2 separate regions of the Homo sapiens genome follow, and region 2 is linked to region 1. The links come from fine-mapping of genetic effects on gene expression. A gene starts in region 1. The other region holds a variant in brackets. All regions are shown on one strand. Distances are from middle to middle. Region 1 holds the start of SLC2A11 (solute carrier family 2 member 11). Region 2 overlaps SLC2A11 (solute carrier family 2 member 11).

Region 1 (15,811 bases):
TGAAACTAACAGGCACATACCAGCATGCCAGGCTAATTTTTAAATTTTTTTGTAGAGACAGGGTCTCACTATGTTGCCCAGGCTGTTCTCCAATTCCTGGCCTCAAGCAATCCTCCTGCTTCAGCCTCCCAAAGCACCGGGATTACAGACATGAGCAACCATGCCCAGCCTTGGTCACTGTCAAGACTGGGGATTAGGCTCAGGGAGAGGTGAAATGACTTGCTCACAGCGTTAGCCACAGGTCAGAGTTGTACCAGGTAGTTTGGACTCCCCAGACTCCAAACCTCAGGTGAGTGAAGGGAAGCCACATGGTTAGGAAAGACATGAGGAAGACATGGACACCCTTCTCTTGGTTAGAGATGAAATGTCATTTGCAGGTCTCCTGACAGAACAGAACACAAGGGAGAGCAGCGGGTTCAGGTGCTGGGCCAGCTCTCCCCTGCCCAGCTCAGGGCAATGACTGTCAGCCTAGTGCCCACCAGCTGCCTCTCGGGGGAGGAACTGTCCACAGGAGCTGGGACCAGGGCCAGCCTCCCCTGACATTGGGTGGAACTCCTCAAGAGTGACCATTGACAAAGATTCTCCTCAGAGTTTTCTAAGCTCTTTTTTCCTTTTTTCTTTCTTTTTTTTTTTTTAAAGATAGTGTCTCCCTCTGTTGTCCAGGCTAGAGTGCAGTGGCATGATCATAGCTCACTGTAGCCTCGAACTCCTGGGCTCGAGCCATCCTCCAACCTCAGCCTCACAGATCCCTACAACTACAGGCCCATGCCATTGTGCCCTGTTGCATTTTTTTTACTTTTTTGTAGATACTGGGTCTCACTGTGTTGCTTAGGCTGGTCTCAAACTCCGGGGCTCAAGCAATCCTCCCACCTCGGCCTCTCAAAGTGTTCGGATTAGAAGCATGGACCACTGCACCCGGCCTTCTGAGCTCTTTTTCAACTAGGTCTCAACTTTTGGACTTCTGTGTTCATCTCTGCCTTGTTCAATTTTAGCAAGTATCGTGCTAAGTTGGTTTAGCTAGAATCCTCATCCTCCACATCTGATCACTCTCAAAATCTAATCGGCCTCCTTATCCTCTGCCATCCTCCATGATGTCTAGTTACCCTGGCCTGCCCTCAACAAGAATCCTGTTAGGACAATTTAACCAGAATCCCCCACAAATGCCTGATGATCCTCTTAGTCATTGTGCACCCGCTGACCCCACTCTGCTCCTTGGCTATCAGTTCTCACTTGCCCATTGCTGTATTTGAAGTTGAGTCCAACCTTTCTGCCTCAGGGCAGGACCCCATTGCCACGGTCCCTACAACTAGTGCTTGCCACCTCTTGAATAAAGTCTTCATTACTGTGCTTTGACAAGTGTCATTGAATAGTTTTTTGTTTTTGTTTTTGAGATGGAGTTTTGCTCTTGTTGCCCAGGCTGGAGTGCAATGATGCAATCTTGGCTCACTGCAACCTCTGCTTCCCAGGTTCAAGCAATTCTCCTGCCTCAGCCTCCCAAGTAGCTGCGATTATAGGCATGCGCCACCATGCTTGGTTAATTTTGTATTTTTAGTAGAGACGGGGTTTCTCCATGTTGGTCACGCTGGTCTTGAACTCCCGACCTCAGGGGATCCACCTGCCTCAGACTCCCAAAGTGCTGGGATTACAGGCGTGAGCCACTGCGCCCAGTTTTGTTTTCTGGTTTTTTTTTTTTTTTTTTTGAGAGGGAGTCTCCCTGTCGCCCAGGCTGGAGCACAGTGGCGAGATCTCAGCTCACTGCAACTTCCGCTTCCTGGGTTCAAGCAATTTTCCTGCCTCAGCCTCTGGAGGAGCTGGGATCACGGCACATGCCACCATGCCCAGCTAATATTTCTATTTTTAGTGGAGACAGGGTTTAATCATGTTGGCCAGGCTGGTCTCAAACTCCTGACCTCAAATGATCCGCCTGCCTCAGCCTCTCAAAGTGCTGGGATTACAGGCATGAGCCACCACGCCCAGCCTGAATAACTTTTTCTTTAACAATTAGAACTTAACACCATTCAGCAGGGTAGGGGAAGCCTCTGAGCCTAGGAAAGTCTCCTTCGTAGGGGCTGGTGATGGCTGTGGGAGGTAAGGTCTGAGAGTGCCCTGCCCGGCCTGGGATGGACCCCTCTCTAGTCTGAGTGTGCACTGAAGTGGGTGCTCAAATGCTTGATGAATTAATGAATAAATAAACCAATGCATCACCCCTGTAATCCCAGCACTTTGGGAGTCCAAGGCAGGCGGATCGCCTGAGGTCAGGAGTTTGAGACCAGCCTGGCTAACATGGTGAAACCCCATTTCTACTACAAATACAAAAAATTAGCCAGGCGTGGTGGTGGGCGCCTGTAATCCCAGCTACTCGGGAGGCTGAGGCAGAATCGCTTGAACCCAGGAGGTGGAGGTTGCAGTGAGCCAAGATCACGCCATCGCACTCCAGCTTGGGCAACAAGAGCAAAACTCTGTCTCAGAAAATAAATAAATAAAAAATAAACCAACGCAGCCAGCTCAGATCTCCCTTTCTAAACTCTCATCCTTTCTTTAAGAGGCTGGGCTGCTATCATTCTTTCTATCCCCACCTCTATCTTCTGCTAGCAAATATTACTTTGGAGGAAGTTCTCTCGATGGTCAACTACAGCCCTTGGTTCCCCATAAAGGTGATCACCTGGCCCAGATCTGGCCAATCTGAGCATCCCAGCCTCCTGACCACATTACTGGTCTGGGAGTGGACATGTAATCCAAACCAGCCCCTCAGGCTCTTCCCTGCCTTTCTACATGAGCTAACCTGGAAGACTTTTGTTGGTGGGGTGAGTTCTCAGCTGGCAGGAAGTGAATCTGGTGACAGCAGCTCCCCATCTGGGTATGAAAACAAGGCCAAGCTGGGCACGGTGGCTCATGCCTGTAATCCTAGAACTTCAAGAGGCCGAGGTGGGCGGACCACTTCAGCTCAGGAGTTTGAGACCAGCCTGGGCAACATGATGAGACCCCATCTCTACTAAAAAATACAAATAAAATAGCTGGGCTTTGTTGTACATGCCTGTGGTCCCAATTATTTGGGAGGCTGAGGTAGGAGGATCGCTTGAGCGCCTGAGCTCGGGACGGGGCGGAGGTTGCAGTGAACCGAAATTGCACCACTGCACTCCAGCCTGGGTGAGAGAGCAAGACTCTGTCCCAAAAAAAAAAAAAAAAAAAAAAAAAACCAGAGAGAGAGAAAAAACAGGGGCAGGACAGCCACAGTTCTGTCCTGGGGCCTGGTTCCTGCAGCTCTCCCTCAGTGCTGTGTGAAGCCCCACATCCCATCATTCCCAGTTACATGATTAGGTACTTGCCCTTCTTACTTAAGCAAGTTAGAGGTGGGCTTCTATCACTGGGGCTGAAAGACCTATCCTTTCCACAGACACTCACAGAACATTGGCTCGGGCCAGGCTACCATCAAGGGCCAGAGATTCAAAGATGACTCAGATGCTGAGAGCAAACCAGCAGGAGAGAGGAGATGGACACAAAACAGCCCTCACACAGCCTAAGAGAGGACAGCCTGCACCAAGGGCTGGAGAGGCAAAAAGGTTTCAAGAAGGTGGTGGTATCTGGGGTGGGCTTCTACAGGTGGAAGAGAGAGGGCCCCTCCGTGGAAGGAGGCTTAGAGGAAGGGCTGTGTCATAGGTATTTGAGGAACTATACTTAACTTGCTTTGGTATCAGGGTTGGGGGAGCGAAGGTGTGAGACAGTGAAACCGAGGGGTTCATTTGGTCAGGTCTGCCTGCCCTGCTTGCTTTTTAAAATTTCTTCTTCCTTTTTCCATGAAGCTGAGGCCGTGATAGCTCAAGGCTTCACCGCTGAACACGGAAACTTAATCTCCACTGGCTACTTTATAAATAACATTGATGAGACCGGGCACGGTGTCTCATGCCTATAATCCCAGTACTTTGGGAGGCTGAGGCAGGCGGATCACATGAGGTTGGGAGTTTGAGACCAGCCTGACCAACAGGGAGAAACCCCGTCTCTACTAAAAATACAAAATTAGCTGGGCATGGTGGCACATGCCTGCAATCCCAGCTACTCGGGAGGCTGAGGCAGGAGAATCGCTTGAACCTGGTAGGCGGAGGTTGTGGTGAGCCAAGATCATGCCATTGCACTCCAGCCTGGGCAACAAGAGCGAAACTCCATCTCGAAAAAAAAAAAAAATTTCTGAGCAGGGGAGTGACTTGAAGAGATCAAGGTGGGGAGAGGCTGAAGGCAAGGAGGCCAGTGAGGAGGCTGGGCCAGAACTGGGAATGTGGTGGAAACATGGGGAGAAGTGGCTGGATTCCAGAGGTAGTTAGGAAGGACTTAGTGTCCAAGAGATGAAGAGAAGAGTCAAGGCTGACCCCCCATCACTAGGTGGAAGATGGAGTCATCTGCTGAGATTAGGGACTCAGGAGGACATGCAGGTTTGGGGAAGATGTATGCTCAGTTTGAACCTGCAGGAACCTGTGGGCCAACCCAATGGAGACAAACTTGTGGCAGAAAGTGCCACCTAGTGGATGCCTGGCTGAAGCCCCTCAGTGGGCAGCTGTTAGCCAGTACCCACTCAGACAGGGACAGTCTCCACCCAGAGAGGATACATACCAAGGTCGGGGCATTGATGATAGAGAGGTTATAGCCAAACTGAAAAGTCCCACCAATGCCGGCAGCGCAGATGGTCAGGAGCAGGATCCTGCCCTGAATCTGAGGAGAGAGGAGAGAACACAGAGTGACCAACAACAGCCTCCACCCCCTCCCTGGACCAGAGCTGCCAATCACAGCATTGCAATTTATTTGAATCAGGCAGTGATGTCTCCACTTTGCAGATGAGGAAAGTGAGGCACAGAGAGGAGTTACCTGGGTCACATGGCTGGCAGGTAGCAGAGGAACCCAAGCCTCCTGTTCTGAGTCCAGGACCCCACTTTACCCTCACCCCACCCATAGCCCCAACATTTCCCTGAGCTGGAGAGCGGTTCCCATCCCTCCTTGTTGGGCTGCCCCTGAGCACGTCTGCTGTGTTTGGGGAAGACAGTCCCCTGAGCTGGGGCCCCAGTAGAGTAAGGCTCTGCCTCCAGCAGGACAGGAGCCTCTGACTTGCCCCAGGAAAACCTTCTCCAACAGAGTGGCCAGGCTCCAGGAATCTGGGCTGAGCCACCTCTCTTACCTCCCACCAGCATGTTCTGCAATGAGGCTAAGAGAAGATGCCACATGGACCTGCAGGTGCAAGGACTTGGGGACATATGAGTAGTAGAGAGGCAGCATAAATGGCCCAGGTGCCTGGTCCCTATCCCAGCTCTCCCCTTCCTTTCTCATCCTAAGTGACTTCCTTACCTGGACCTGCAGATAATGAAGCCTACTTCTAGGCTGGGTACCCATGAGTCATGCACACTTGGTACACAAAAGGACAGTGAAACACCCTTAGAGATGGAGGGAGAATTCCCCAAGGCATCCCTGATGCCTCATCCTTTGTAGTTGGGATAGTTGGGATTTTCTTTTTTTTTTTTTTTTTTTTTTTTTGAGACTGAGTCTTGGCCTGGCGCAGTGGCTCACACCTGTAATCCCAGCACTTTGGGAGGCCGAGGCGGGTGGATCACAATGTCAGAAGTTTAAGACCAACCTGGCCAAGATGGTGAAACCCCATCTCTACTAAAAACACAAAAATTGGCCGGGCGCAGTGGCTCATGCCTGTAATCCCAGCACTTTGGGAGGCCGAGGCGGGCGGATCACGAGGTCAGGAGATTGAGACCATCCTGGCTAACACGGTGAAATCCCGCCTCTACTAAAAATACAAAAAATTAGCCAGGCGTGGTGGCGGGCACCTGTAGACCCAGCTACTGGGGAGGCTGAGGCAGGAGAATGGTGTGAACCCGGGAGGCGGAGCTAGCAGTGAGCCGAGATAGCGCCACTGCACTCCAGCCTGGGCGACAGAGCGAGACTCCGTCTCAAAAAAAAAAAAAAATTAGCTGGGCGTGTTGGCAGGCGTCTGTAATCCCAGCTACTCGGGAGGCTGAGGCAGAGAACTGCTTGAACCCAGGAGGTGGAGGTTGAGTGAGACTCCGTCTCAAAAAAAAAAAAGAGACGGAGTTTTGCTCTGCCGCCCAGGCTGGAGTGCAATGGCGCAATCTTGGCTCACTGCAATCTCCGCCTCCCAGTTCAAGCGATTCTCCTGCCTCAGCCTCCCGAGTAGCTGGGATTGCAGGCATGCACCACCACACCCAGCTAATTTTTGTATTTTTAGTAGAGACTCCTGACCTCAAGTGATCTGCCCACCTCAGCCTCCAAATTGCTGAGATTACAGACGTGAGCCACCGCACCCGACCTGTAGTTGAGGTCGTCTTAGGGATTCACAGAAGTATTTATCTTTCTCCTTTGGTGATTTTCTGTTTTGTTTTTTGAGACAAGGTCTCATTTTGTCACCCAGGCTGGAGTGCAGTGTCGCAATCTTGATTCACTGCAGCCTCAACCTCCTGGGCTCAAGCGATCCTCCCACCTCAGCCCCCCAAGTAGCTGGGACTACAGGCACACACCATCATGCTGGGCTAATTTTTTTGTAGAGATGGGATTTCACCATATTGCCCAGGCTGGTTTCAAACTCCTGAGCTCAAGCGATACACTCGCCTTGGCCTCCCAAAGTGGTAGGATTACAGGCGTGAGCCACCATACCCAGCCCACTCTTTTGTGATTTTTAATTACAAAATGACACGTTTGTTAAGATTTTTGAAAATTCAGTATATACTGAAAGTTCTCCACTCCTCCAAAGGCACAACAATTAACTCCTTCCCTCAGGTATTTTCCTAGATATTTGCAAAGTAGTTGACTTTACAAAAATTGAATCGTTGATATCTTCCCCCAAAAAATACTGCCTTTCTTGTTCTGGCAAATTGTTCTGTAGAATTAAATGTATTATTTTTGAAAACTTTGATACAATTTTCATGACAGAAGGATGTTTGGCTAAGGTTTTCTGAAGTTTCCAGAACCTACGGACTATTTATTCATTTATTAGTCAAATACTGAGTGTTGGCCGGATGTCGTGGCCCACACCTGCAATCCCTGCACTTTGGGAGGCCGAGGTGGGCAGACCACTTGAGGTCAGGAGTTCGAGACCAGCCTGGCCAACATGGTAAAACCCTGTCTCTACTAAAAATACAAAAATTAGCCGGGCTTGGTGGTGGGCACCTGTAATCCCAGCTACTCAGAAGGCTGAGGCAGAATTGCTTGAATCCGGGAGGGAGGCGGAGGTTGCAGTAAGCCCAGATCGCGCCACTGCCCTCCTGCCTGGGCAACAGAGTGAGACTCCATCTCAAAAAAAAAAAAATGCTGAATGTTTATCTCAGCCAGGAAGTGTGCTGGGGGGCAAGATACAGCTGGGAAAGAGACAGCTGTGCTTTCACCATTCAGTGAGATACTGCACTGGAGGCTGGGGGAGCAGAGGAAGTGGCTCTGGAGGGCAGAATCCTGCTGAAGGCCTTGCCATAGGTCTGGAGACAGGTTGGTGACAGGGGCCCTGGCTGCCCATAGTTCCAATAAGGCCTAAGTAACTTTCTCTAAGGCTGGAAGCCTTAGGAAGAAGCCAGGTGAGAAACCTGGCATCTGGTCCCATTGAGGCCAAATTACAGCTCCACGGGGGCCGCATGGAAGTGAGAGCTCCCTTAAGACAGCAGATGTGAAGGAAGCAGCGAACACAGTGCTTGATGGCAGCTGAGCTCATGTAGCAGGAGATATTGACAGGTCTCTAAGACTACAGGAAATCGTTGAATTCAATGAGATCATGCATGGAGATTGCCTATACCGTGCCTGGTCATGGTAAGCATTCAGACATTAGCTACGATAGGGACCATTAATTCAGCAAACAAAGATTTATTGCCTCCCTATTATGGTCAATAATCCTACTGTTCTAGGTGTTGGGATACAGCAGTGAACAACAGACAAAATCCATGAGCTGTCAGAGCTTTCCTTCCAGCAGAGAAAGACAAGCAATCGCAAAATGAACAAGCAAAATATATAGTACATCAGCTGGTGCTACAGAGACTTAAAGCAGTGAAGGGGCGTAGGAAGTGTTTGGACCAGGTGGTGCTATTTTATTTTATTTTATTTTATTTTTATTTTTTAGAGACAAGGTCTCGCTACGTCGCCCACGCTGGAGTGCAGTGGTGAGATCCTATTAGATCCCTGCAGCTTCGAACTCCTGGGCGATCCTCCCACCTTAGTTGGTGCTATTTTAAATAAGGCTGTCAAGGAATACAAGTGCAAATCAAGACAAAGGAGGTGAGGGAATGTGCCATGCAAATACCTAAAGAAATCAGTCCAGATTGGGAAGGAACCCCTAGAAGCGGTGGGCAGTGCAGTGCGGGCGCTCTCCTCTGGCTGCGCCCTTTCCCTCTGTGAGGCAGGACGTCAGGTCAGAGCTGAGGGAGCATGAGGAGGAAAGAGGCGGGGGTGGGAAACAGTCTCGGGAGGGGGCGAGCAGTCAGGATTGCAGCGCTCGGAGGGCTTACTGCCTCTGAGGTCAGGGCTGATCGGCAGAGGATTTAGCATCTCTGGGGGCTGGGATGCCAGGGTCCAGCAACCTTGCTCTGGCCCACAGGCCGACCCTGGGCGTAAACACCTGCCTATGCACATCTGAGCCTAGCACCTAACGCCACTGTACATACAAGCACGATATTTTTGAACATTTGACGACTTAGTTAAGCCTCCCAGGTGGCTGCACCTGCGCAGTTCACTCAGGTCCGCAATCCCTCATCTGAAACGCCTGGTCTGGGCAAGTATGAGAATTCATACCATTCTAGATCGCAGGAGGGCGTGGAGCATTCGAAAGAGGGGCCTGAGCGGAGGTCTTGCTGTCCCAGGGAGACCCCGGCTGCCATTAGCAAGCGGTGAGCCGGCAGCCTGTGCGCGGAGGGAAGGGCAGCGCGCAGCGCCCAGTGGTGAAAGAGGCGCTAGCGCACGCGCAGTGAGCGTTTGAGAGGAGCAAACCCGTCGAGACGAAGCTGTAGCGCAAGCGCAGTGGGTATTGAGAGCGGCCGCACCAGCTGAGGGTTCGCGCAACGCTAAACGATGGCCGGGACTAAGGCCTGAGACTCAAGCTCAGGCGCAGTGAAGCGCAGAGCCGCTAGAGTGTCGCGGAGGGCGCCTGAGGCGCATGCGCGGACTCAGCGTTTTTAAGAAGGGCTGGGGGTGCTGGGGAGTTCGCCCCAGCGTGTTGGGGGGGAGTCGCCGCCGCGGGGGGGGGGTTTGGGGTCACCGCCGCGGGGTTTGTCGCCGCCGCTGGGAGCTCACCTGCGTCCGAGGCCGTAAGGACGGCTCCAGTTCATCCTCCATCCGCCTCTGCCGCAGCACTGAGGCTGAAAAGCCGCTCACTCCTTACTCGGCTAAGCCCCAAGCTCATCTCTGCAGGCCGGAAGGGAGCTCTGGTCCAAGGTCATCTCGGCCAAGCCCCTGCATTCGCCCTCGCAAGTGCCAGCAAGCGACTCTGGTCGCCGCGCTCCCAAGTCCTCCCCCGAAATTCCGGCTCTGGCCCCTCGTCCCCCTCCTTTGCTACAGTCTCTGGACTAAATGTCTGCGGGTCTCTGTCTCTCGCTGGTCTGACCTCAGCCGCAACCCTGCGCGATTCCCTGCGCCGGTCGCCACTGCCGGCCGCCAGAACCTCGGAGGCCACTGCCCCTGGGCGTTCTCCGGAGGGCCAAGCCCTTGGTTGTGCACATCTATGCACGCCCCACCTACACCCCCCCCCCCCCACACACACACACTTTGGTTCAGGTATCCCCGACCTTTCCCCAGAGGACGGGAAAATTAGGAAAGACCGAAAGATAGACCCACCAGTCTTCGGAGCGCTCTCATCTGTGCGTCCTGGGCAGAGCGAGAGACTTGGCGGAATGCGGGTAGGAGAACCGGTCTCGGGTTGCCGCCAGGGGATCCATTGCGTGAGAGGCAGGTCCGACTTATGCTGGGGGCACTTGGAGTTGAGGAACCACAGAGTCCACTGAACCGGATTAATCTTTTATCCCTCAGGGCTTCTCAGGCCCTGCATGGAGGAATCCAGGAGCTGGACAAAGACCAACTGAAACTAGACTTGCCAAAGATGCTATTTGTGGTCACAGAAACATAGAGCTGGACATGACCTTAAGAAGTCACCTGAGCAGACACTGTGATGGGCACTGTAGTAGCTCTATTGCTCAGACTTGGTTTTTGTTTGACTTTTGCTGCTCTGAACTTTAATTCCTAAAAACACTGCATTTTTAAGGAAAAACACAAAATATTAGCAGTTATAATAAATAGGTATTTTATTGCATGCTTTTCGTGCATCTATTAAGATGATCATATGGGTATTCTCCTTTAATCTGTTAATGAGATCAGTTACATCAATAAACTTTCTAATGGTAAACCATTCTTGAATTCTTGGGGTAGACGCAACTTGGTCATAATATTATTGTTATTAATACATTGTTAGTTTCAACTGCTGATATTTTATTTTGATAGGTTAATTTTTTTCTTTTTTTTTTTTAATTTATTTATTTTTTTTTTATTGATCATTCTTGGGTGTTTCTCGCAGAGGGGGATTTGGCAGGGTCATAGGACAATAGTGGAGGGAAGGTCAGCAGATAAACAAGTGAACAAAGGTCTCTGGTTTTCCTAGGCAGAGGACCCTGCGGCCTTGGCCTTCCGCAGTGTTTGTGTCCCTGGGTACTTAAGATTAGGGAGTGGTGATGACTCTTAACGAGCATGCTGCCTTCAAGCATCTGTTTAACAAAGCACATCTTGCACCGCCCTTAATCCATTTAACCCTGAGTGGACACAGCACATGTTTCAGAGAGCACAGGGTTGGGGATAAGGTCACAGATCAACAGGATCCCAAGGCAGAAGAATTTTTCTTAGTACAGAACAAAATGAAAAGTCTCCCATGTCTACTTCTATCCACAGAGACCCGGCAACCATCCGATTTCTCAATTTTTTCCCCACCCTTCCCGCCTTTCTATTCCACAAAACCGCCATTGTCATCATGGCCCATCCCCAATGAGCCGCTGGGCACACCTCCCAGACGGGGTCGTGGCCGGGCAGAGGGGCTCCTCACTTCCCAGTAGGGGCGGCCGGGCAGAAGCGCCCCTCACCTCCCGGATGGGGCGGCTGGCCGGGCGGGGGGCTGACCCCCCCACCACCCTCCCGGACGGGGCGGCTGGCCAGGCAGAGGGGCTCCTCACTTCCCAGTAGGGACGGCCGGGCAGAGGCGCCCCTCACCTCCTGGATAGGGCGGCTGGCTGGGCGGGGGGCTGTCCCCCCCACCTCCCTCCCGGACGGGGCGGCTGGCCGGGCAGAGGGGTCCTCACTTCCCAGTAGGGGCGGCCGGGCAGAGGCGCCCCTCACCTCCCGGACGGGGCGGCCGGCCGGAAGGGGGGCTGACCCCCCCCACCTCCCTCCCGGACGGGGCGGCTGGCCGACCCCCCCCCCCCCACCCCGCCTCCCTCCCGGACGGGGCGGCTGGCCGGGCAGAGGGGCTCCTCACTTTCCAGTAGGGGCGGCCGGGCAGAGGCGCCCCTCACCTCCCGGACGGGGCGACTGGCCAGGCGGGGGGCTGATCCCCCCACCTCCCTCCCGGACGGGGCGGCTGGCCAGGCGGGGGGCTGACCCCCCCCACCTCCCTCCCGGACGGGGCGGCTGGCCGGGCAGGGGGCTGACCCCCCCTCCCCCCTCCCGGACGGGGCGGCTGGCCGGGCAGGGGGCTGACCCCCCCACCTCCCTCCCGGATGGGGCGGCTGGCCAGGTGGGGGGATGACCCCCCCACCTCCCTCCCGGGCGGGGCGGCTGGCCGGGCAGAGGGGCTCCTCACTTCCCAGTAGGGGCGGCCGGGCAGAGGCGCCCCTCACCTCCCGGATGGGGCGGCTGGCCAGGCGGGGGGCTGATCCCCCCACCTCCCTCCCAGACGGGGCGGCTGGCCGGGCGGGGGGCTGACCCCCCACCTCCCTCCCGGACTGGGCGGCTGGCCGGGCGGGGGGCTGACCCCCCCACCTCCCTCCTGGACGGGGCGTCTGGCCGGGCAGAGGGGCTCCTCACTTCCCAGTAGGGGCGGCCGGGCAGAGGAGCCCCTCACCTCCAGGACGGGGCGGCTGGCCGGGCGGGGGGCTGACCCCCCCCACCTCCCTCCCGGACGGGGTGGCTGCTGGGCGGAGACGCTCCTCACTTCCCAGACGGGGTGGTTGCCGGACGGAGGGGCTCCTCACTTCTCAGACGGGGCGGTTGCCAGGCAGAGGGTTTCCTCACTTCTCAGACGGAGCAGCCGGGCAGAGACGCTCCCCACCTCCCAGACAGGGCTGCGGCCCAGCAGAGGCGCTCCTCACATCCCAGACAGGGCGGCGGGGCAGAGGTGCTCCCCACATCTCAGACGATGGGCGGCCGGGCAGAGACGCTCCTCACTTCCTAGATGGGATGGCGGCGGGGAAGAGGCGCTCCTCGCTTCCCAGATGGGATGGCGGCCGGGCAGAGACGCTCCTCACTTTCCAGACTGGGCAGCCAGGCAGAGGGGCTCCTCACATCCCAGACGATGGGTGGCCAAGCAGAGACGCTCCTCACTTCCCATACGGGGTGGCGGCCGGGCAGAGGCTGCAATCTCGGCTCTCCGGGAGGCCAAGGCAGGCGGCTGGGAGGTGGTTGCAGCGAGCCGAGATCACGCCACTGCACTCCAGCCTGGGCACCATTGAGCACTGAGTGAACGAGACTCCATCTGCAATCCCGGCACCTCGGGAGGCCGAGGCTGGCGGATCACTCGCGGCTAGGAGCTGGAGACCAGCCCGGCCAACACAGCGAAACCCCGTCTCCACCAAAAAAAAAACGAAAACCAGTCAGGCGTGGCGGTGCGCGCCTGCAATCGCAGGCACTCGGCAGGCTGAGGCAGGAGAATCAGGCAGGGAGGTTGCAGTGAGCCGAGATGGCAGCAGTACCGTCCAGCCTTGGCTCGGCATCAGAGGGAGACCGTGGAGGGAGAGGGAGAGGGAGAGGGAGAGGGAGGGGGAGGGGGAGGGAGAGGGAGAGGGAGAGGGAGAGGGAGAGGGAGAGCAGGTTAATTTTTTTTCAAAACAACCATTGCCTTTTCCCCCTTAAGAAATAAGTGGGAAGTGGCCGGGTGCGGTGGCTCACGCCTGTAATCCCAGCACTTTGGGAGGCCGAGGCAGGCAGATCACGAGGTCAGGAGATCGAGACCATCCTGGCTAACACGGTGAAACCCTGTCTCTATTAAAAATACAAAAAATTAGCCGGGCGTGGCGGCACGCTCCTGTAGTCCCAGCTACTCGGGAGGCTGAGGCGAGAGAATGGCGTGAACCCGGGAGGCGGAGCTTGCAGTGAGCCAAGGTCGTGCCACTGCACTCCCGTCTGGGCGACAGAGAGACTCCGTCTCAAAAAATAATAATAATAAATAAGTGGGAAGTGACGGGCTAATAAATGGCGCTAGGACAGTTGATGATATGGGGAAAAAGTGTGGACCTCTGTCTCACTTCATATACAAAAGTCATTCCAGGTACACACAAACCTAATGCAAAAACCTAACTTCAAACATTTTAGGCTGGACGCAGTAGCTCCCACCTGTAATCCCAGCACTTTGGGAGACTGAGGCAGGAGGATCACTTGAGCGCATAAGTTCAAGACCAGCCTGGGCAACATGGGCAGACCCCCATCTCTATAAAAAAAAATGTAAAGGCCGGGCGAGGTGGCTAATGCCTGTAATCCGAGCACTTTGGGAGGCCAAGGCAGGTGGATCACCTGAGGTCAGGAGTTCCAGACCAGCCTGGCCAACATGGCGAAACCCCGTCTCTACTAAAAATACAAAAATTAGCTGGGTGTGGTGGCGGGCACCTGTAATCCCAGCTACTCAGGAGGCTGAGGCAGGAGAGTCACCTGAACCCAGGAGACAGAGGTTGCAGTGAGCCAAGATTGCGCCACTGTACTCCAGCCTAGATGACAGAGTGAAACTCCATCTCAAAAAATAAAAATAAAAAGGAAATATATAATACTTTTATAACCCCGGGTTAAACAAGGATAAACCACGCAGATTTCTTATGAGGATTTAACCTTATTAAAATTAAAAATCTGTGTGTTAAAAGACACCATTAATGGGCCAGGCACAGTGGTTTACGCCTGTAATCCAAGTACCTTGGGAGGCCACGGTGGGTGGATTGCTTGAGCCCAGGAGTTTGAGAACAGCCCGGGCAGCATGGCAAAACCCCGTCTCTACAAAAATTACAAAAAATTAGCCGGGCATGATGGCTTGAGCCTGTGGTCCCAGCTACCCAGGAGACTGAGGCTCAGGGAGGATTACCTGAGCCAGGGAAGTTGAGGCTGCAGTAATCGGTGATCACAGCACTGCACTCCAACTGGGGCAACAGAGTAAGACCCTGTCTCAAATAAACAAACAAAAGACGCCATGAAAAGGTGAAACCTGGCCAGGTGTGGTGGCTCCAGCCTGCGATCCTAGCACTTTGGGAGGCCGAAGTGGGAGGATCACTTGAGTTCAAGAGTTCGAGACCAGCCCTGACAACATAGTGAGACCACATCTCGATTTTTTAAATAAAAAAATACGCATTTTTTAAAAAGTTGAAACCTAAAGCTACCAAGTAGAAGAAGGTAACTACAACATATGACCAACACAGTATTAGTATTCAGAATGTATATAGAATACCCACATACCAATAAGGAAAAGAAAATGGGCAAACAGGCTTGACACGGTGGCTCATGCCTATAATCTCAGCACTTGGGAGGCCAAGGCGGGGCAGATCGCTTGATCTCAGGAGTTCGAGACCAGCCTGGGAAACATGGTAAAACCCCGTCTCTACCAAAAATACAAAAAATTAAACCCCATCTCTACCAAAAAATACAAAAAATTAGCTTGGCATGGTGGTTTGGCCTGTAGTCCCAGCTACTCAGGAGGCTGAGGCATGAGGATCACTTGAGCCCAGGAGGCAGAACTTGCAGTGAGCCGAGATCGTGCCACTACACTCCAACCTGGGCGACAGAGTGAAACTCCGTCTCAAAAAAAAAAAAGATATGAACAAGGAATTTACAGAAGAGGAAACTGAAATGACCAAAAAACCTAATTAAAAGATAGCTACATTAGTAATCAGGAAATGCAAATTAAATCCACATCAGCATATTGGTTCCCACTCAACAGACTAACAGCTTAATTCTGGCAATACCAAGTGGTGGTGTTGATCAGCTGGAACACCCACGTACTATTGATGAAAATATCAGTTGGAACTAGGTGTGGTGGCTCATGCCTGTAATCCCACCACTTTAGGAGGCCAAAATAGGAGGATCATTTGAGGCTGAAGTTTCAAACCAGCCTAGGCAATGTGGTGAGACCCTGTCTCTATAATTTATTTTTTTTAATTAGCTGGGCACAGTGGCACACCACACAGCTGTGGTCCCAGTTACTTAGGAGGTTGAGGTGGGAAAAAAAGCTTGAGCCCAGGAGGTCAAGGCTGCAGTGAGCCATGTTCACACCACTGCACTCCAGCCTGAGTGACAGACTAAGACCCTATCTCAAAAAAAGGAAGGAAGGAATGAAGGAAGGAAGGAAGGAAAAATGTAAATCAGTGCAATGACTCTGGAGAGCAATTTGGGCAGATGAAGGAAGTTGAAGTTCACATACCTCTCCCACCCAGCAATTCCACTCCTGGGTTTACCTTGGAGAAACTCTTAATCCCATGCTCAGGAACTGTTCACAAATGCAGCATCTTTTGTACCATAGGAAAATTGGAAACTATCCAAATGTCAATCATGCAAAAAAAGGAGATATAAGCTGTAGAATACCATAGAATACCATGCATCAGTG
Region 2 (15,811 bases), 23 kb before region 1:
TCATATGTACAACAGGGGTAATAAAAGTACTAATTTCATGGGGTCCTTTCCAGGATTAAAGGAGCTAACACTTGGAAGATACTCAGAATGGTCCTGATACATAGAAAGCCCTCCATAGATGTTATCCCTGAACATTGTTGTCACTGGGAGACTGTTTTGCAAGGTAAGGACCACCGCCATCCTCACAACCCTGGGCACAGCCTGAGGACAAGGACTGAGGCGGAAGCCTCTGGATGTAGTGGACCCTAGGTGGATATGTGTAAACTGAAGGGAAAAATGATTCAGCTGAGGCACAGAGTGATCTGGGTCCCAACAAGAGGGAACCAGAGACTCAGAGGGTCCAAGAAAGGAGAGGATGAGAACAAATACAAGAGAATGGACAACAGCCCTTTGGAGGCTGTGCAAGCCCAGATCCTTGTGAGCGCCGCCTGGATCCCGGCAGCCAGGCAGCCAACTTGAGCCTGCCAGATGGGCGGGGCCCTGTCCCCTGGCCCTGGGAAGCTGGGACATGTAGGTCCTGGTAATTAGCAAATGAGGGAGGGATTCGGGCTAGGAGAGGGGCTTGACCACATGCTCTGGGAGGTGGGGAGAGGCCACACTGGGTCTGGGGTCTGGGGAGGTGGGCTGGAGCTGGGGAGCATGGCTGTGACTCCTCTCCAGCTACATGGGCTAGACATCAATGCTCACACCTGGAACGCAGTCTCAGCAGAGGCAGGTCAGCTCCCACCCTGGACCACCCCCTAGAAACCCAGTCTGGCTCTCTCACCCCTCTCTGCACTGCCCTTCCTTGTCTTCAAGGTCCTGTCCTGAGACCCTGTCTCCTCTCCCTAACTGAGGGGCTCCCTGCGTAACAAGGGACTTGCAACCCCCACCCCGCCCTCCCAGAGTGGCCAGAGCCAATTCCGGCTGGGTGGGTGGTGAGTGAGAGGGCAGGGCTCAGGCTGGGGACCGGGGCACCATGTGTGTCCGAGGCAGGCCGGGACCTGGGTGTCACCTGATGCCTGCTCTGCTCGTGGCACGTACCCCAGGATCTCAGGGGTGCTTGTCAATGGATTCTTACTCATGACTCCACGTTGGAGGTCTGCAGCCAGGGCGGCCAGGGAAGCCATTTGGAGCACAAAGGTAAGCTGGGGAGCAGGTCAACAGAGGCAGGATCAGGGTGGATGGACACAGAGGGGCAGAGTGACCACACACAGGGCTCCTGGGAGGGCTGCCCCTGCCTCCTGAAGACTCCACAGTGACTGGACACGGTAGCTTCATTCCCATCCTGCAACGCTGCTGCCTCCCAGTGGCTCCAGCTTTTTTTTTTTTTTTTTTCTTTTTTTGGTAGAAACAAGGCCTCGCTCTGTGGCCCAGGCTGGAGTGCACTGGTGCAATCATAGCTCACTGTAATCTCCAACTCTTGGGCTCCAGAGATCCTCCCACCTCAGCCTCCCAAGTAGCTGGGACTACAGGCACATGCCACCAAGGCTCTAGCTTTTAAAAGGCCCCCAGCTGAGCCTATCCTTAGGAAGCCAGCTCAGAGTCACCTTCTCCCTGAGACCTCTACTGACACCCTGACCCAGAGATTTCTCTCTCCCCAGAGAACCCACAGCCCCACCACTTCTCTTTAACAGTCACTGTTTCCTGACAAAAGCCAAATTCTTTCTTATACAACAATAGTCCACTGATTTTCTTTATTTAGGCACCAAAGTAAAATAATGAAGAAAAAATGGCTTTTTTTAAAGCAAATGGTACTGGTACGACCAGATAGCCATTTCAAAAAAAAAGAAAGAAAAGAAAAAAGGGCCAGTCATGGTGACTCATTCCTGTAATCCCAGCACTTTGGCAAACGAACGGCTTGAGTCCATGAGTTCAGGAACAGTCTGAACAACATGGCAAAAGCCTGTCTCTACAAAAAAACAAAGAAAAACAATAAAACAAAACAAAACAAAAATTAGCCAGGCTAGCCGGGCGCGGTGGCGGGCGCCTGCAGTCCCAGCTACTCGGGAGGCTGAGGCAAGAGAATGGCGTGAACCCGGGAGGCAGAGGTTGCAGTGAGCCGAGATAGTGCCACTGCAGTCCTGCCTGGGCGAAAGAGCAAGACTCCATCTCAAAAAAAAAAAAAAAAAAATTAGCCAGGCATGGTGGCACGCATCTGTAGTCCCAGCTACTTAGGAGGCTGAGGTGGGAGGATTGCTTGAGTCTGGAAGGTAGAGGTTGCAGTGAGCTGAGATCACGTCACTTGCACTCCAGTCTAGGCAACACACAGTGAGACCCTGTTCCCCCCACCCACCCAAAAAAAAGGAACCTCAGCCCCTCACACCATACCCAAAAATTAACTTGAAATTCATCATCAGCAACATAAGTGTAAAAGCTAAAACTATCCAACATTTGGAAGAAAATCTTTGCAACATTGGGATAGGCAAAGATATCTTATGGCACAAAAAGCATGAATCACAAAAACCAAAAACTGATAAATCAAACTTTACCAAAATAAAAATTTCTGTTCGGCCGGGCCAGGTGGCTCACGCCTGTAATCCCAGCACTTTGGGAGGCCGAGGCGAGCAGGTCACGAGGTCAGGAGATCAAGACCATCCTGGCCAACATGGTGAAACCCCGTCTCTACTAAAAATACAAAAAAATGAGCAGAGCATGGCAGCACGTGCCTGTAGTCCCAGCTACTCAGGAGGTTGAGGCAGGAGAATTGCTTAAACCCAGGAGGCAGGGCTGCAGTGAGCCGAGATCGCGCCACTGCACTCCAGCCTGGGTGACAGAGCGAGATTCCATCTCCAAAAAAAAAAAAAAAAAAAAAATTCTGCTCTTAGGTAGCATTAAGAAAATAAAAAAGGCAAGCTACGGACTGCAGGAAAATATTTACAATACTATATATTTAACAAAGTACTAGCTTCCAGAATGTATAAAAAATGCCCACATTTAAAAAATAATGACAACCAACCTGATAAAAATAGCAGATAAGGGCTGGGTGCGGTGGCTCATGCCTGTAATCCCAGCACTTTGGGAAGCCAAGGTGGGTGGATCACTTGATGTCAGGAGTTTGAAACTTGCCTGGCCAACATGGCAAAATCCCATCTCTACCAAAAATACAAAAATTAGCAGGGCATGGTGGCTCACGCCTGTGGTCCCACCTACTTGGGGGGCTGAGGTGGGAGGATCGCTTGAGTCCAGGAGGCAGAGGTTGCAATGAGCTGAGTTCATTCCACTGCCCTCCAGCCTGGGCGACAGAGAACCCTGTCTCAACAACAACAACAAAAAAAAGTAGACAAAATATTTGAACAAATTATTCATAAAAGAAAACCCACAAATGGCCATACTGAGCACATGAAAAGATGTCAAACATTATTAGTCATTAGGGAAATACCACAATTAAATGACAAGATACCACTACACACTCACTAGAATGGCTAAATTGAAGAGACTGACAATACCAAGTGCTGATGAGGATCTGGAGTATCCAGAACTCATACATTATTAATGAGAATGTGAAACAATATAATCAACCACTTTGGAAAACAATTTTTATACAGTTAAATATACATTTATTATTAAGCCCAGCAATTCATTTACCCAAAAAGCTAGACTGACTGTTTATGTCCTCCCCAGGTTCATACCTTGAAACCTAATCCCTCATATGATGGTACTTGGAGGTAGGGCCTTTGGGCCTCCTCGGAGGTGATTAGGTCATGAGGGCAGAGCCTGCATGAATGGGATTGGTGCCCTTATAAAAGAGACCCCAGAGAGCTCCCTTGCCCCTTCTGCCATGTCTAGGAGAACACAGCAAGAAGACCGCCATCTATGAATCAAGACATGGGCCCTCAACAGACACTGAATCCACTGGCACCTTGATCTTGGACTTCCCAGCCTCCAGAACCATGAAAAATAAATTTCTGTTGTTTATAAGCCACCCAGGCTGTGGTTCTTAGTTATAGCAGCCCGACGGACTAAGACACAAAAGAAATAAAAACATATGTTTAGACAATTATTATTGTAGGAACATTCACAGCAGTTTTATTCATGATGGCCAAGAATTAGAAACAGCCAAAATGTTCACCAACAGGTAGATGGATAAATAAATCATGGTCTAACCACAGAGGGGAATACTACTCAGCAATACAAAGGAGTCTCTCCTAATACGTGCAACAACATTCATGAATCCCAAAAACTTTATCTGGAGCCAAGCCAGACACAAATGTGTACATACAGTACGGAATGACTTCAGATTCTGAAAAAAGGCAAATCTGACCAATTGAGGCAGAAAGCAGGTCAGTGGTTCCCCAGGTCTGGGACTGGGGTGGGTTACTGATAGCAAATGGGCATGTGGGTGCCTTGGGGTAGGGTAAAGGTTCCATCTTGATCACGGTGGTGTTTCCCAAGTGTATACACTCACCAAAACTATACTTAGAACTCAAAACTCGCCAAATATATACTTAAAATGGATGCAGTTGGTTATGTATAAATTATACCTCAATAAAGTTGATTAAAAACATCAATTCCTCAGAAAATTCTTTTCTGACCACTCCCCTCTCAGACGAGGTCGGGCCTCCTGGTATGCATACCCATACCCACTACAACCTGTATTTATTTTTTTTGAAACATGGTCTCTTTCTGTTGTCCAGGCTGGAGTGCAGTGGCTCAATTAGGACTCACTGCAGCCTCGACCTCCCAGGCTCAAGTGATCCTCCCATTTCAGCCTCCTGAGTAGCTGGGACCACAGGCATGTACCACCACACCCAGCTAATTTTTTTTTTTTTTTTTTTTGGTAGAAACAGGATCTTACTATGTGGCCCAGGCTGGTCTCAAACTTCTGGTCTCAAAGCAATCTTCCCATCTTGGCCTCCCAAAGTGCTGGGATTACAGGCATCAGCCACCTCACCTGGCCAACCTGTATTTTTCTTTCACTGCATTTCCTGAGTCTGTAATTATTATTATTATGTTTTAAAGAGATGAAGTCTCCCTCTGTCACCCAGTCTGGCATGCAGTGGTGTGATTGTAGCTTACTGCTACCTTGAACTCTTGGACTCAAGTGATCCTGCTGCCTCAGCCTCCTGAGTAGCTAGAGCTGTTAGCACATACCACCATGCCCAGCTAATGTTTAAAATTTTTTGTAGAGATAGGGGGTCTCACTATGTTACCTAGGCTGGTTTCAAACTCTGGCCTCAATTGATCCTCCCACCTTGGCCTCCCAAAGTGCTGGGATTACAGTCATGAGCTGCCACAACCAGCCTGTAATTATGTTGTTACTGATTTTCTGTCAGTTAATTACCTTTAGCCTGGAATACCACGCTCACCATTGATTGCTAAGCACCTGGAGCCATGTCTGCACACAAAGGGTGCTCAATAAACACTCCTTAAATGAGGAATGCAGGAGGGAGTGAGGACCAGGGCCCTGGCAGGAAGCAGAGGACAGGACAGTAGCTGGCTTTGGCTCTGGCCACCCCTTTGGGACTAGAGTTCTGTTGACTGGATAACCTCCAGGCTCCTCCACGTGGGGCCCTGGGCCCGCCTGGGGAAGTTGAGTCTGTGTAATTCCTTGGAGATCTCTTGGAAGGTCTTGCCTTTGGTCTCAGGAAGGAACAGGCCAGTGTAGATGGCCCCACAGACACAGACACCAAGGAAAGGGACATAGAGGAAGTGGGACAAGGCCTCCTGCGGATTAAAAAAGACCCCAAGACCTGGTGTGTCTCCATCAACCCCTAAACAGAAGGCCCATGACAGGTCGTGAGGAGGCATTTGCCCCCCTCTTTGCTCCCCTAAGACCCCTCCCTTTCAGTCTCAGTCTCCCTGGATGGAAGCCTCCCCCTGGGGTTCTCAGGATGACAGGGACACAGCCTAAGGCAGGGCCCCCAGCGGGAGGGGCGGGCCTACCATGATAAAGGGAAATCCCAGGCCGACCAGGATGAGCATGATCCACATGAGCGCCCCGCAGACCATGCAGGCAGCAGGCCTGGCCATCTGGTCAAACAGCTCTGTGGCCAGGATCCCCGTCACTCCGGCTAGAAGGAGGGGCAGGGACAGGGGGCTGCTGGCCAGGGTTCCCTGCCTGCCTCTCCCCGACCCCAGCCCAGACATGGGAGTGGGAGCCCAGGCCCAGTCTGTATGGGGGGCCCCTCAGTGCTCTCCTCCTGCCATTCCCTCCCAGAAGCCCCGGCATGAGGTGGTCTCTGAGGGCCTGCAGGGGACATTGCATTCACACCCACCCACTGTGCACCCAGGCACCCATCACTCCTTCTATGTGATGATGGATGCCCAGAGCCCCTTGGGCCCACTCACCAGGGCCAATGCCAAAGCTGAGGATGAAGGCAAAGATGCAGGCCATGGCCAGGTAGAGTGTCCAGGGGAAGGAGCTCTGCCGTGGACGGGGCGGGGGTGAGGTGGAAGTCAGCCCGGCCTGGACCCCCCAGCCCTCATCCACCCCAGCTACCTGCAGGCACAGGGCCACAGTGAAGATGCTCCCCCAGCAGGTCATCAGGCTGTACCCACCGATGAGCAGCACGCGCCGACCCACCCTCTCGATTACCACACACTGCAAAGGCAGAAAGCACAGACCCACACACCCAGCCATGGTCCCTGAGGTCTGGGGCAGGCAATGGGAAGGGGTCTCCTGAGAAAGCTGGTGGTGGAGGTGAGGGTAGTTTATTGCTTCAGTGTGACTTTATTAATTTCCCAAAGGAACTTGGTCAATCAATCACCCAACTTCAGCCAGTTTCCGCATCTCAAAATGGTGCTGGAAGTGACCCGCAAACCGTAGATGCTCAATAGATGCTCTCTAACTCACTGCATTGATTGATTGATTGAGACAGGGTCTTACTGGTCTCACTGAGCTGAGACAGGGTCTCACTGGTCCAGCCCACGCTGGAGTGCAGTGGCACAATCTCGGTTTACTGCAGTCTCAACCTCCTAGGCTCAAGTGATCCTCCCACCTCAGCCTCGCCAGTAGCTAGCACTACAGGCGAAGACCACCACGCCTGGCTAATTTTTGTATTTTTTGTAGAGACGGGGTTTCACCATGTTGCCCAGGCTGGTCTCCAACTCCTGATCCCACCTCAGCACTATTGCCTGGGCTGGAGTGCAATGGCACCATCTCGGCTCACTGCAACCTCCACCTACTGGGTTCATGCGATTCTCCTGCCTCAGCCTCCCAAGTACCTGGGATTACAGGCGCCCGCCACCACGCCGGGATAATTTTTTGTATTTTTTAGTAGAGACGGGGGTTTCACTGTGTTGGCCAGGCTGGTCTCGAACTCCTGACCTTGTGATCCACCCACCTCGGCCTCCCAAAGTGCTGGGCTTACAGGCATGAGCCACCGCACCTGGCCCCTCACTGCATTTTAACACCATAAGCTGGAGTGTAAACTGGTTTAATGCAGAGGACCTGGGGGTCCCTCCCCACAGGGCTGGTGGAGGAAGGGCACCCTCCAGACTCACACTAACAACCGCCGTGAGCAGCTCGCAGCTCCCAGTCCCGATGATCGCGTACTGGATCTTCGCTTCCGGCACTCCTGCCTTCCGGAACACGGAGGAGGCGTAGGCGTACACCTGGGAGAGGGTGGCTTTCAGGCCTGGGCTCCCTTCCACCTCCCATGGCTCCCAGCGGCCTGCAACACCAAGCCCCCGGGGCCCAGGGTGTGCGGCGGGGCAGGGGTCTCACCGAGTCATTCCCGCAGAGCTCCATGGCACTGCCCAGAACCACGAGGCTTGTCACCTGTCTCCTCAGGGCCCGATGCTGGAACAGCTCCCATGGGCGCCGGGCACGGCAGCCCTGGCAGGCAGCGCGCTCCTCCTCCAGCTCCTCCAGCTCCCCTGCCAAGTCCCC[G/A]GAGCCCCGGAGCCGCCGTAGTGCTGAGCCAGGGAGGAGGGTACTGAGCTCCCCGTCCCCAAGCCCCTCTTTGGTCCCCCTACAGGGACGCCCCCCTCCATCCCACCATTCCTTTCCTTCTTGGCTCACTCTCTGTCTCTGAGTCTGTCTGTGTGTGTGTGTGTCTCTCTCTCTGCCTCTGTCTCTCTCAATCTCTCTGTCTCTGTGTGTGTCTCTGTGTGTGTGTGTGTTTCTCTCTCTGCCTCTCAATCTCTCTGTCTCTGTGTCTGTGTGTGTGTGTGTGTTTCTCTCTCTCTCTGCCTCTGTCTCTCTCAATCTCTCTGTCTCTGTGTCTGTGTGTGTGTGTTTCTCTCTCTCTCTGCCTGTCTTTCTCAATCTCTCTGTCTCTGTGTGTGTCTCTGTGTGTGTGTGTGTTTCTCTCTCTGCCTCTCAATCTCTCTGTCTCTGTGTCTGTGTGTGTGTTTCTCTCTCTCTCTGCCTCTGTCTCTCTCAATCTCTCTGTCTCTGTGTGTGTGTGTGTGTGTGTGTTTCTCTCTCTCTCTGCCTCTGTCTCTCTCAATCTCTCTGTCTCTGTGTCTGTGTGTGTGTGTGTTTCTCTCTCTCTGCCTCTGTCTCTCTCAATCTCTCTGTCTCTGTGTCTGTGTGTGTGTGTGTTTCTCTCTCTCTCTGCCTCTGTCTCTCTCAATCTCTCTGTCTCTGTGTCTGTCTGTGTGTGTGTGTGTTTCTCTCTCTCTGCCTCTGTCTCTCTCAATCTCTCTGTCTCTGTTTGCCTCCCTGGTCAGATGGAGATGATCTTCCTTGCCCTGACATTTCTCAGGGCTGTTGCGGTGTTGCCACCATGGATGAAAAAAGGCTTTAGAAAGAAACGCAGGGTTCTGCGGACATATCAGACAGGACATGACTATTGCAGCACATTATCAAACCCAATTCTTCACCCCTCCCTGCACCCACACTGCTTGCTGTGTGATTTTGCAGTTCCTCCCACTAAAGGGGCAAGTACTGCCTACATCCCTGCTCCTGGCTCTGGGCTCGGCCAATAGGATGAGGCTGCAGTGAGGGCGTACCATGTTCCAGCCTAAGCCTTAAGAGGCCTTGCTCACTTCTACTTGCTCTTCTGCCTTCATGAGAACATTCCAGGCTAGCCAGGAGGATGACAAGACATGGACAGCCAAAGGGGCCCAGCTAAGCCACCCTCACTGGGACTATTCTAGATCAGCCAGCCAATGCCCAGCTGAGCTGCAGTTGCAGGAATGACCAAGATCAGCAGAGCCATCAGCCAGAACCATCCTAGATCAGCCCAGCCCAGAGGACTTAGAGGCTTAGGCTAAATAATTGCTTTTTTTGTTTCTTTACCACCGAGATGTTATGATCATCTATTAGTCAGCAATAGAAAGCTGATCAATAAATTGGCACCAGGAGTTGGTGCTACCGTAACAAAGACCTGTGAAATATGGTATCAGTTCCAAGACGAGGCAGAGGACGGCGATGAGGCTGGAGAAATGAAAAGCTATGTTATATAGTGCAGTAACACGGAAGAAAGAAAATGGGCTCAGTGAACTTATGGACTTGAGCAAAGAAAACTCCAAATGTTGAAAGCATGAACTGGTTGCTGTTAGATGCATATTCTAAGCTTGCTGTAAGACATGAAGAATTAGCTCAGAAAATAACTGGCCAGTTTGCAAGCAGAATTCAGAGGCAACAAAATTTAATTAAACGTAGCATATTTCAGAAACACTGGGTTAGTTGAAAACAACAACAAAAAATGTTTTCTCGCCTCTATCCTCTCCAGCTAGCAAAAGAATCCCAAATTAAGTAACAGCCTGTGAGCAAAGATCAAATCCAGAGCACTGCCAGGAAGCCATGGACTCATAGTAAAGATCAAATCAAGGGTATAGCTTAAAGCAGTGCCTCACAGACCCTCACAACTAGAAAAGGGGGCATTTAGGAGGCTTGAGGGCGTTGATTCACGGTAGCCTGACATACCCTAAATACCAGCAATTAGGCCTTGGGAGAGAAGCCTGTCTCAAAAATAATTGTGAGCGTGGTTTGTTGACACATGAAAAAACCTCGAATACATAGAAAATTCACATCATTTTTGAGAAAGTTGTATTGGCAAAAGCTCTGCCAGTTTGGACAAAAAAAAGACCAGGACAATTTGAAATATAAAGACTTCTGTGCCCCAACTTTGTTTTCTTTTCTTTTCTTTTTTTTTTTTTTTTTTTTGAGATGGAGTCTCACTCTGTCACCAGGCTGGAGTGCAGTGTGCACTGGCACAATCTTGGCTCACTGCAACCTCCGCCTCTCGGGTTCAAGCAATTCTCCTGCCACTGCAACCTCCGCCTCTCGGGTTCAAGCAATTCTCCTGCCTCAGCCTCCCTAGTAGCTGGGACTACAGGTACGTGCCACCATACCCAGCTAATTTTTGTATTGTTAGTAGAGATGGGGTTTCACCATGTTGGCCAGGCTGGTCTTGATGTCTTGACCTCGTGATCTGCCCGCCTCAGCCTCCCTGGGATTACAGGCGTGAGCTGGCGCCCAGCCTGCCCCAACTCTCTATAGGCAGGAAGGAGGCTGAGAAATTTGCTCAACCATCAAAAGCAGCACATTGTGCAACGCCCTCTTCAGAAGGAATCAAGGAAGGTGAAAGAAAAGGAAAAACATCTCAGAGGGTAGACCCAAGAAGCATGGAGAGCCACGCATAGTGGTGTGTGCCTAGAGTCCCAGCTACTCAGGAGGCTGAGACAGGAGGATCGCCTGGGCCCAGGAGCTCTGGGTTGTAGTACGCTAGGCAGATCAGGTGTCTGCACTAAGTTCAGCATCAATATAGTGACATCCCAGGAGCAGGGACCACCAGGCTGCCTAAGGAGGAATGCACTGGCCCAGGTTGGAAATGGGACAGTTCAAAACTCCCATGCTAGCCAGATACAATGGCTCATGCCTATAATCCACGCACTTTGGGAGGCCAAGGGGGGAGGATCATTTGATCTCAGGAGTTTGAGACCTGCCCAGGCAAAGAGGTGAAACTCCATCTTTACAAAAAATACAATAATAAAAAAAAATTAGCCAAGCGTGGTGGCACGGGCCAGTAGTCCCAGCTACTCAGGAGGCTGAGGTGGGAGAATTGATTGGGCCTGGGAGGTGGAGGTTGCAGTGAGCTGAGATCACACCACTCCAGCCTGGGCGACAGAGTGAGACCCTGTCCCAAACAAAACCAAAAAAACAAGAACAAAAAAGAAGAAAACTTCCGTGCTGATCAACAATGGCGTCATGCCTATGAACAGCCACAGCACTCCAGCCTGGACAAGCGAGAACCTGTCTCTAAAAGATAAAAAAAATAAAAAAAATAAAAGAACCATGGCCTGGGGTGCCCTTCATAGGGGGTAGGGGACAGAGCTGGAACTTGAACAAAGAATACTCCCTACCCCCAAGGCAGGGGACATGGCCATATTTTCCTAGGGGCGCTTCAGAATTGTTATAGATTAGTGACTGCACTGTGCCTGCCTTGCTTCCTCGTTTTTGAAATGAGAGCATTAATTTTGGTTACCTCATCTTACTTTTTACCATTGCATGCTGAGTGTGGGAAGGGAAGAAGACTCATCTTTCTAGATCCTAGGTTTCTGGATCAAGAAAAGGCCCATATAGACTTAATGTGGCGTAAGATCTGGGACTTCAAGCCCGATGCCATGATTGGATGAGACTTTGGGGGATCCTGGGATGGGACTGAACACATTTTGCACAGAGGAGAGACATAAGTAATAATTGCGGCCATGGTGACAGAGAAGAGTACACTAATGGGCCCCGGTCTTCACCCCTCCTTAAATCCACAGCCCTTGCGATGGGAGAGGATATGCCATCAATTTTCCCATCCCTTGACTTGGGATTTGGCAGTATGACTGACTCGCTTTGGCCAATGGAATGTTAATGGCACGAGGGAACCAAAGGTTTGGAAAGCGCTTATGCAACTGGATTTGCTTTCTTGTTTCTCTGCCATCACCATGCTATTCCTAGGCTAACTCGTTGGTACCAAAAGTGAGAGGACAGAAAGTGCAGCAAAGCTGAATGGCTCCAGTCCAGACCAGCCTAGACCGGCCAACCAGCAGCTGAACCTCACCACTGCCCCCCTCCCCCGCCCCACACTGTGAACTAGCCCAGCTGAGATCAGCAGAGCTGTGCAGCCAGCCAGGCAAGTACATGAATAAAAGAAGCAGTAAATAATTGTTGCTTTAAAGCAGAAATGTTGCGATTGTTCCTTAGGCATTCTTACTGTAGCCAAAGTTAACTGATATAAGATGACCATCACCCAGTTGGCACTGGGTAGGTGAGGTCTTGCACAGGTGTTTCACCGTGTGTGTGCGCGTGTGTTTCTCCGCACCGCTCTGGAGTTCTTGAGTAACAGTGGCTAGGTCTGATCCATTCTGCTGCCTGGCAGTTAGGACAACCACTTGATAGAGTTCTGATTGAAGGCAGGTATAGGCAGATCATGAAATTGAGGCACAAAGAGAGGGATAGCTTTTCCTTGATAAATGAAACCTATGAAATGGGGACCCGTATACTCTGGGGAGATGCATCCCTTGGTCAAGGGCAGTCTGGGAGCCCAAGGACAGAGACTCACCTGCCAGGCAGGCCTCGGTGTCTCCACAGTCAATGAGGAGGTAGCGCGGGCTTTCAGGGAGCAGAGGCAGGGAGGCGAGCTGGAGCGCCCCGGGCACCAGGCAGCTGGCCAGCAGCAGGGGCCAGGCCTGAGGGCCACCTAGGAGCTCCCTAAGGAGGCAGAGGAGAGGCCAGGCCAGATGCCTCTTTGCCAGAGTCCTACCACCCTGCTCTCCTGCCCACCTACACACCTCCCTGCAGGGAGTCTGCAATTGCCCCGTGCCTCTTCCTATCCAAGTCTGGGTCTGAACATCAAGATCCCTCCCACCCAGGTTGGGACCAAGAGAGGACAGGGCCACTGCCCCACCTCATCCCTAGCAACTCCTCTTCCCAAGGGTCCAGGCTCTGCCTTCTCCTCTTTTTTCTGGAATGACTGGAACACGTTTGTCTTTGAAAGCCCAAATCTTCACCCTCTCCTCTGTGAAGACCTGTTCTTTGCTCCCTGACCTGGAGAGGATGGGAAAAGGTGATTCACATTGCAGTGTGTTGACTGATACCCATTTCGTGAATTGGCAGCAGAGATGTGGATAGAGGATTCGATGCCTTCATGCAAAGCAATAATGCTTTAATCTACTAGTGGGTAGGGGAGACATTTAGGTGAAGAAACGCTTTTACTGGTATCTCCGAAATACTCAATGCATGTGGGGGAGGGGTGCTTACCTGAGTCCGACCACCTGTCCCATCACGATCCCCAGAGCCGTAAAGATGGCTGAGCTCATGGCCACAGCTCCTCGGAGCTCCTTAGGGGCGCTCTCCCCCAGGTACATGGGCTGGATGTTCATGCTCACACCTGGACGTGTGCACAGCAGAGGCACGTCAGCCACCAGCTGGGACCCCCACTCCACGACACCCAGCCTGTCTCCCCTGCCCCACTCAGCACTGTCCAGCCACTCAACTGGATCCTGGCACTGAGGGCTGATCCCTCACCCCCCACACTCAGGGGTTCTGCTTCACCTGATGAAGGGCCAACAGGATCCCAACTCTACTCTTCAGAACTTCTGAGGGAGGGCTTTCTCAGATCCGCTCCCATCCTGGTCCCTGGCCACAGTACCACATGTTCATGGGCTCTTCCTAGGTCCCATCACTGGGACCCGAGTGTGAAGGACTCTGACGGGGCTGTGCGGGGGGGTGGGAGGAGGAAGGTAGGACCACATCCTGGATGCCTACCAGCTGTCCCAGCACTCATGTCAATTCCTTCATTGATCACTACAGCTGCTCTCACCTCACCCTGGCTCCCCCAGGGAAGACCCTGGCACCTACACTGCCCTCAGGAAAACAGAGAGCTGGAGAGCACCCCAGCGCCCTCCCAGAGGGTGACAAATGGCAAAAGCTAAGAGGCCACTGTGTTGTGGTGTCACGCCCCTGGGAATGCAGTATGCCCTCCCTGACCTAGGGGTTCTCCCATCAAGGTCCTGCCCCTCTATCTACGAGTTGGGCAAAGATAACTGGAAGGAAGGCAGCTATGCTGATTGCCAAGGAGTCTCGGAGGTGCCCCTGCTCTTCCTACAAACATTTAGCTGGGGATTCCTTCTCTGATGGGTACTTGGGACATGAAGACAAAGTCTGACCTGGTTCCTTTCCCCTGGATCGTGGGCTACTCTTAGTAACTCACTTCTAATGAGCAGAATAATGGTGTATGACCTCTGGAATTAGGACATAAAAAGCACCTGGACTTCTCCTTGTGCATGCCCTCTCTCTGTCTCCCTGTCTCCCTCTCTCTCCCTCCCCTCCTCACCCCCTCAGATCACTCTGGAAGAAGCCAGCTGCCATGTTGTGAAGATCCTCAAGCAGCTCTGTGGAGAGCCCCCCAAAGTGGGCAGCTGAGACCTCCTGCCAATGGCACGTGAGGGAGCATCTTGGAAGTGGATCCTCCAGCCCCAGCCAACCCTTCTGATGTCTGCAGCCCTGACAGCTTGAGCACAGCCCCGTCAGAGACCCCAAGCCAGAGCCACCTACCTAAGACATTCCTGGGTTCCTGGCCCACAGAAACTGTGAGATTATAAATGTTGATTATTTTAAGTCACTTAATTTTGGGGTTATTTGTTTCACACAAATAGATAACTAATATAGATAGCATCATATAGATAACATCACCACTGGGCTGTATAAACAGTAGGGCGTCAAGAGATGACTTGTTGGTTGGAGCCCCTAAAAACCCAGGTGGATGTGCTCAAAATTCTGCTCTCTCACATGAAAAGCCCCAGAAATCGAGGAGTACCTAACAGGCCATTCTGCTTCTGAGAGAAGATCAGAAAACTCATCCTATATCCCTTTACACGTTGGCTACCAGGAAGCTCATGGCTTAGAGTGTTACTCAAACATGGGACCTGTATTAGTGTTAAGTTTGGAGATGCTTATTCCCCCACCCCTACACAACTTTTCCATTGTTCTGTACCTACTTTAAATATCTAGTTATATGAGCCCTTTAAGATAAACTATACTACATCCTTTTGTGACAAAGGTAGGCATAAATAAAAAATAAATGAATGAATAAAGGGAGGAAATGAAGGAAGAAATGAAATAAAAGGAATTAATGAATTTATTAATTAATAGGCATAGAGAGGCAGGATGAGAAGCCCCCACCCCATACCTGCATTGACTCCCACGAGCAGTCTTCCCAGCATGATCATCTCAAAGGAGCCTGCTTTGCGGCTGAATCCAAACAGGATTGCTGCTGACACCACAAAGATGTTATTCACCAGGAGGGACTTCTTCCTTGGGGGAAGTGAAACACACAGAAAGAGAGGCTGTGATTCAGTCCAGCGGGACCATCCCTGGGGACCACTCTTTGCAACTGTAACAAGCCTTAATTAGACACACACACAAATGTATGTAGTATGCCATTAACTACTTTGAGTCCTGGTATCCTTGCTGTCAAATGAGATGAGAGCTCCTACACTTACACGTCTGTTGTAACACATAATTTTTAAAATATCTGTAAAAATTGGGCTGGGCATGGTGGCTCATGCCTTTAATCCCAACACTTTGGGAGGTTGAAGCGGGCAGATCACCTGATCCCAGGAGACCAGGCAGGTCAACATGATGAAACCCTATCTCTACAAAAAATACAAAAAAAATTAGGCTGGGCGCGGTGGCTCACGCCTGTAATCCCAGCACTTTGGGATGCTGAGGTGGGTGGATCACCTAAGGTCAGGAGTTTGAGACCAGCTTGACCAACATGGAGAAACCCTGTCTCTACTAAAAAAAATACAAAATTAGCCAGGCATGGTGGCACATGCCTGTAATCCCAGCTACTCGAGACTGAGGCAGGAGAGTCGCTTGAACCCGAGAGGTAGAGGTTGTGGTGAGCCAAGATTGCGCCATTGCACTCCAGCCTGGGCAACAAGA

What was found.
Region 2: its variant is fine-mapped to the expression of SLC2A11 in nasal epithelium (TOPMed, PIP above 0.99).

Annotation. Positions count from the first base shown.
Region 1 is chr22:23,850,994-23,866,804 of GRCh38, reverse strand. SLC2A11 (solute carrier family 2 member 11) reads right to left here and starts at 8,930. Exons shown (of 12, transcript NM_001024939.4): 1 at 8,776-8,930; 2 at 4,603-4,701. The coding sequence starts at 8,805.
Region 2 is chr22:23,874,484-23,890,294 of GRCh38, reverse strand. It overlaps SLC2A11 (solute carrier family 2 member 11), which reads right to left. Exons shown (of 12, transcript NM_001024939.4): 4 at 15,054-15,178; 5 at 13,124-13,253; 6 at 12,426-12,574; 7 at 7,649-7,836; 8 at 7,426-7,536; 9 at 6,422-6,523; 10 at 6,271-6,346; 11 at 5,866-5,993; 12 at 3,983-5,646. The coding sequence ends at 5,446. It also overlaps the pseudogene RN7SL268P. Among named protein-coding and RNA genes, the nearest start is that of MIF, 12 kb to the left of the region's middle. RefSeq lists an enhancer at 1,639-1,933. The variant G/A (reference allele first, on the strand shown) is at 7,814.